Linked DNA regions of Homo sapiens. The protein of the gene in region 1 purifies or fractionates together with the protein of each later gene. This does not show direct contact. Each region holds a gene or a part of one and is shown on either strand. Other genes may lie near its edges.

Region 1 (3,500 bases):
TTCTCCCAAGCAGAAAGAGTTTCACACGGTCTTAAGTTCCTACAAGGCTAACAAGTGCTCCCAGTAGCATTATGCAATTCCCTTGGCAGCTGTATTCTGACGCCATTTGTGTTTGTAAGCAAGGCCACTCTCACCACATAGTACCCAGTATTAAATATTCATTCAGGTGCAGCCTTATCCTATAGTCCTTAGAAAACATGAGAGATCAGCAAGGGGCAAAATCTTTCTCCTGAAGTATAACTCATAGCAAGCCCAGTACTGCCCTGCTGACATAACTCTATGTGATTTCAAGACTGTGCATTCTATACTTGTAGCAGATATACCAACATTGATAAAATATTCTTGCCCCAAAATGCTTTCCTGAATCTAATCATGAGGGAAAAATTAGACAAATCCAAATTGAGAAACCTCCAAAACAATTGGTATAGGTTATTCAAAAATATCAAAGTCATATAAGGAAAAGATATGGGAATTGCACTAGATTAAAAGATACTAAAAAGGCTCACCAAAGCAATCTGTGATGTTTGAGGTGAACACTCTCATGAAGTGTTATACTGTCTGCAACATACACACAGTTCAGGGAAAAGAGGCTGTACATATGTGGCAATATGTTAATATTTAGGGTAAGATACTTAGTGGCATGCAAAATGATGATATAATAAAAATCAGAGGTTAACAGTACCAGTTGGTTTCAAAAGTAGCCGTAACAATATTTTTTCTCATTTTTTGAAACTTCTTCAAATATTTAATTCTTCTTTACATCACAGAAAAGTAAATTTACGTTGCTGTCAAGTGAAAAGTCACTCTAGATAAATACTTACGGGAGCAGGTGGCAGTTTGCCACTCTAGACATTGTCCATATGGAAAAGAGATGATATAGGCATTAGAGTCAACACATCGTTTCGTACTGCTGCACCACATACACTCCATGCCATTGCTTGTACAGTTGGAACATGATGTCCTCAGAGAGCATGGCTTTTTGCACGGCCTCGCATTTTGATTTGGACTAACTGGAATAAATAAACAAATACAATAATTTCATTTTTAACTTCATGTTAACACAATTGTATGGGTTTTCTTTGCTTTGCTGTTCAGGGCATGTTTCAATTAAGCCAACTGTGGCATTATAATATGATGAGGTAGATAAAAACAAAGATGATATATCAATACTTCTTAAAATTTTTATTAAATTTGAAAATGTATAACTCCTTTGAAATTTGTAATTCTTTACAAAGTATATAAAGTTGTATAATTTTAAGTATTATAAGCAGTAATGTAATCTATGACCTAGTTTGTATACCAGCACTGTTTATTTTCCCAGCCACAATTTTTTCCCAGCCACGTTTTCCATAGCATTCCACATCTTACAAAGTAAATGTCCTGTAAGTGAACATGTCTTTGATATAAACAAAGAATAAAAATACAGCTTATCATAAAATATTACACAAGATACAATATTTATCACAGCCTTTAAGATGGCCATTATTTAAAAATAATAGGAAATAAATATTGGCAAGGATGGAGAGAAATTGAAACCTTTGTGCACTGCTGGTGGGAATGTGAAAAACAGAATTGCCACATTATTTTGTAATTCTGCTTCTGGCTATATATATATACCCCAAAGAAGTGAAAGCAAGAAGCTGAACAGTTATTCATACACCCACATTCATAGCAGCATTACTCACAATAGCAAAAAGGTAGAAGCAACGCAAGTATCCATTGATAAATGAATGGATGAACAAAATGTAGTATTTACATATAATGTAATATTGGTCAACCTTAAAAAGGAAGGAAATTCTCATATATCCTACAACTTGGTTAAACCCTAAAGACATTATGCTAAGGGAATAAGCCAGTCACAAAGCACATATACTGTATGATTTCACCATATGAGGTACCTGAAGTAGTAAATTCATAGAGACAGAAAGTAGAACAGTAGTTGCTAGGGACTGTAGGGGGTGGGGTGGAGGAAATGGAGAGTTATTGTTTAATGGGTACAGATTTTTAGTTTTGCAAAATGAAAAAGTTCTGGAGCTAAATGGTGATGATGTTTGCACAACAGTGTCAAAGTATTTAATGCCATTGAATTGGCATTAAAATACATTTACAATGGTTAAAATGGTAAATTTTAAGTACATTTTACCATGATAAAAATATAAGATTTAAAAGAAAAGAATTCAATATTCCTTTCTTACTTAACAAAAATCCATTTCAGAAGATGTAACAAAAATGTTTCTTTTTACTTGATAACTGAAATATGTCTACAAGAGTAAAAGGAGTCCCAATTAGCCATTAATCTTAAAAGCAAATCTTCTTCCCAAACACTATCATGATAAAAGTAAAAGACATTAATGAATTAAGAATAGATTATTGTCATATTATAAGTAACTACAACCACAATCTCACTATTTGAACCAACAAAGTTTGCATAAAATAATAATATTATGTTATTTTCACAAGTTAATGCTGAGATCACTAATAGTAAGTGGGGAAGAATGTGTATAAAAATAAAATTTACATAAATATCATAGAATAAGACTACACCCTAGAAGGAAGGAATGAGAAGATGGGTGGGAAACATACTTTTAAAGGAATGCTAATTTACTGGACTACTTACCAACAGGTTTTTCACAGACAAGGCCATTTGCCATAGATGTACAAGGATTAGCTTTTAAGCCTGCCACTGCAGCCCTTTCCAGATATGCACAAAACCCAGAATCATTGGGTTCGCCAGGAAGCCACTGTAGTGTTGTGTTTGTAAAAGGAGACATGTCTTCCCATCCCCAATAGGATATATTGATCTTGCGCAAGCCTACCCAAGGTGATACTTTCTGTAAACAACAGGAAAAGGGGCATTCAAAGAAAGTTAGATGTAAAAATATGGCATATTCCTTAGCAAATAGTTCACTATCATTAAAAATTATATTTGAAAATATATAAAGCTGCCTTTCTAATGAGTTTTAGTACTAAGAATAATTAACAATTATAGCATATTTTGGAGAATGATGTAGAATAGAACACTGTTTTTAAAACACAGGTTTTATATTTAGCTACATGATTGGAATAATTTATTTAGCCTTCATGAACCTCAGTTTACTCTTCTATAAAGTGGAGATATAATTATCTATCTGATAAGGTAGGATTATTTAAAAACTTAACATATTGTTATTGCTGCTGCTGCTTCTATTACTATTACTACTATCAATGTAATCAGTTATAGGATTAAGACTCTAAAGATAAATTGCCATTATCTGCATTGTGAAACTAGAAAATAAAATCAACAAACAATATATAGAGTCTGAGTGAAGACTTCATAACAAGACCTAGCAAAAAGACTTACAGAAGAATAACTGCCTCTCTCTTAGCTCAGACGTCTACAAATAAATCTGGACTTCTATATGATTTTTGGATAAATTTATGTCATATAATTTTATTAACAAAAAACAACAAAAGTAATAAAATCTGATGCTCGTGCCTATAATTTAACTAAGATTGACAAA
Region 2 (3,500 bases), on another chromosome or scaffold:
CTCTACTAAAAATACAAAAAATTACCCAAGTGTGGTGGCGCATGCCTGTAATCCCAGCTACTCGGAAGGCTGAGGTGGGAGAATTGCTTGAACCAGAAGGCAGAGGTTGCAATGAACCAAGATCCCGCCACTACACTCCAGCCTGGGTGACAGAACAAGACTCTGTCTCAAAAAAAAAAAAAAAAAAAAAAAAAGGTGTTTTGGTTATATACCTAGGAGTGAAATTGCTCTACCTATGATAATTCTATGTTTAACTACTTTTTGAGGAACCACCAAATTGTTTTCCACAGCAGCTGAACCATTTTACATTCCCATGAGTAATGCACAAGGGTTCCAACATCTCCACATCTTGGCTATTTTCTGTTTTTAATACCAGCCATCCTAACAGGTATGAAGTATCTCATTGTATGCAATGTATTTTTCATTTATTATTTGTAAATAGAAATCCACCTTGTAGTGATTTCTATAATTATGTAGCGCAGCCACCTGAGACACCAAAAATACTTAAATACCAATAAAATAGGGTACAAAGATTTTAAGTCAACTCAATTTTGAAAAAGGTATCAAAGATGACAAAGAATGACGATATAATACAAAAACTTGTCACTGAATTATAAATTACCTTGGACAGTATGGCCATTTTCACTATATTGATTCTTCCTATCCATGAGCATGGAATGTTCTTCCATTTGTTTGTATCCTCTTTTATTTCATTGAGCAGTGGTTTGTAGTTCTCCTTGAAGAGGTCCTTCACGTCCCTTGTAAGTTGGATTCCTAGGTATTTTATTCTCTTTGAAGCAATTGTGAATGGGAGTTCACTCATGACTTGGCTCTCTGTTTTTCTGTTATTGGTATATAAGAATGCTTGTGATTTTTGTGCATTGATTTTGTATCCTGAGACTTTGCTGAAGTTGCTTATCAGCTTAAGGAGATTTGGGGCTGAGACAATGGGGTTTTCTAGATATACAATCATGTCATCTGCAAACAGGGACAATTTGACTTCCTCTTTTCCTAACTGAATAGCCTTTATTTCCTTCTCCTGCCTAATTGCCCTGGCCACAACTTCCAACACTATGTTGAATAGGAGTGGTGAGAAAGGGCATCCCTGTCTTGTGCCAGGTTTCAAAGGGAATGCTTCCAGTTTTTGCCCATTCAGTATGATATTGGCTGTGGGTTTGTCACAGATAGCTCTTATTATTTTGAGATACATCCCATCAATACCTAATTTATTGAGCGTTTTTAGAATGAAGGGTTGTTGAATTTTGTCAAAGGCCTTTTCTGCATCTATTGAGATAATCATGTGGTTTTTGTCTTTGGTTCTGTTTATATGCTGGATTACATTTATTGATTTGCGTATATTGAACCAGCCTTGCATCCCAGGGATGAAGCCCACTTGATCATGGTGGATAAGCTTTTTGATGTGCTGCTGGATTCAGTTTGCCAGTATTTTATTGAGGATTTCTGCATCAATGTTCACCAAGGATATTGGTCTAAAACTCTCTTTTTTGGTTGTGTCTCTGCCTGGCTTTGGTATCAGGATGATGCTGGCCTCATAAAATGAGTTAGGGAGGATTCCCTCTTTTTCCATTGATTGGAATAGTTTCAGAAGGAATGGTACCAGTTCCTCCTTGTACCTCTGGTAGAATTTGGCTGTGAATCCATCTGGTCCTGGACTCTTTTTGGTTGGTAAGCTGTTGATTATTGCCACAATTTCAGATCCTGTTATTGGTCTATTCAGAGATTCAACTTCTTCCCAGTTTAGTCTTGGGAGAGTGTGTCGAGGAATTTATCCATTTCTTCTAGATTTTCTAGTTTATTTGCGTAGAGGTGTTTGTAGTATTCTCTGATGGTAGTTTGTATTTCTGTGGGATCGGTGGTGATATCCCCTTTATCATTTTTTATTGCGTCTATTTGATTCTTCTCTTTTTTTCTTTATTAGTCTTGCTAGTGGTCTATCAATTTTGTTGATCCTTTCAAAAAACCAGCTCCTGGATTCATTAATTTTTTGAAGGGTTTTTTGTGTCTCTATTTCCTTCCAAGGTAATTTATAGATTCAATGCCATCCCCATCAAGCTACCAATGACTTTCTTCACAAAATTGGAAAAAACTACTTTAAAGTTCATATGGAACCAAAAAAGAGCCCGCATCGCCAAGTCAATCCTAAGCCAAAAGAACAAAGCTGGAGGCATCATGCTACCTGACTTCAAACTATAATACAAGGCTACAGTAACCAAAACAGCATGGTACTGGTACCAAAACAGAGATATAGATCAATGGAACAGAACAGAGCCCTCAGAAATAACTCCGCATATCTACAACTATCTGATCTTTGACAAACCTGAGAAAAACAAGCAATGGGGGAAGGATTCCCTATTTAATAAATGGTGCTGGGAAAACTGGCTAGCCATATGGAGAAAGCTGAAACTGGATCCCTTCCTTACACCTTATACAAAAATTAATTCAAGATGGATTAAAGACTTAAACGTTAGACCTAAAACCATAAAAACCCTAGAAGAAAACCTAGGCATTACCATTCAGGACATAGGCATGGGCAAGGACTTCATGTCTAAAACACCAAAAGCAATGGCAACAAAAGCCAAAATTGACAAATGGGATCTAATTAAACTAAAGAGCTTCTGCACAGCAAAAGAAACTACCATCAGAGTGAACAGGCAACCTACAAAATGGGAGAAAATTTTCGCAACCTACTCATCTGACAAAGGGCGAATATCCAGAATCTACAATGAACTCAAACAAATTTACAAGAAAAAAACTAACAACCCCATCAAAAAGCGGGCAAAGGATATGAACAGACACTTCTCAAAAGAAGACATTTATGCAGCCAAAAGACAAATGAAAAAATGCTCATCATCACTGGCCATCAGAGAAATGCAAATCAAAACCACAATGAGATACCATCTCACACCAGTTAGAATGGCAATCATTAAAAAGTCTGGAAACAACAGGTGCTGGAGAGGATGTGGAGAAATAGGAACACTTTTACACTGTTGGTGGGACTGTAAACTAGTTCAACCATTGTGGAAGTCAGTGTGGCGATTCCTCAGGGATCTAGAACTAGAAATACCATTTGACCCAGCCATCCCATTACTGGGTATATACCCAAAGGACTATAAATCATGCTGCTATAAAGGCACATGCACACGTATGTTTATTGCAGCACTATTCACAATAGCAAAGACTTGGAACCAACCCAAATGTCCAACAATGATAGACTGGATTAAGAAAATGTGGCACATATACACCATGGAATACTATGCAGCCATAAAAAATGATGAGTTCATGTCCTTTGTAGGGACATGGATGAAATTGGAAACCATCATTCTCAGTAAACTATCGCAAGGACAAAAAACCAAACACCGCATGTTCTCACTCACAGATGGGAATTGAACAATGAGAACACATGGACACAGGAAGGGGAACATCACACTCTGGGGACTGTTGTGGGGTGGGGGGAGGGATAGCATTAGGAGATATACCTA

Evidence for each region. The genes of interacting proteins can lie anywhere in the genome.
Region 2: the proteins of ATRNL1 (region 1) and PRKAR2A fractionate together in Homo sapiens (co-fractionation; one large-scale study listed by BioGRID). This does not show direct contact.

Annotation. Positions count from the first base shown.
Region 1 is NC_000010.11:115,299,365-115,302,864, reverse strand, and holds part of ATRNL1 (attractin-like protein 1 isoform 1 precursor), read right to left. Parts: intron 2,832-3,500; coding exon 2,618-2,831; intron 1,011-2,617; coding exon 822-1,010; intron 1-821. UniProt on the Homo sapiens protein: May play a role in melanocortin signaling pathways that regulate energy homeostasis.
Region 2 is NC_000003.12:48,841,375-48,844,874, forward strand, and holds part of PRKAR2A (cAMP-dependent protein kinase type II-alpha regulatory subunit), read right to left. Parts: intron 1-3,500. UniProt on the Homo sapiens protein: Regulatory subunit of the cAMP-dependent protein kinases involved in cAMP signaling in cells. Type II regulatory chains mediate membrane association by binding to anchoring proteins, including the MAP2 kinase.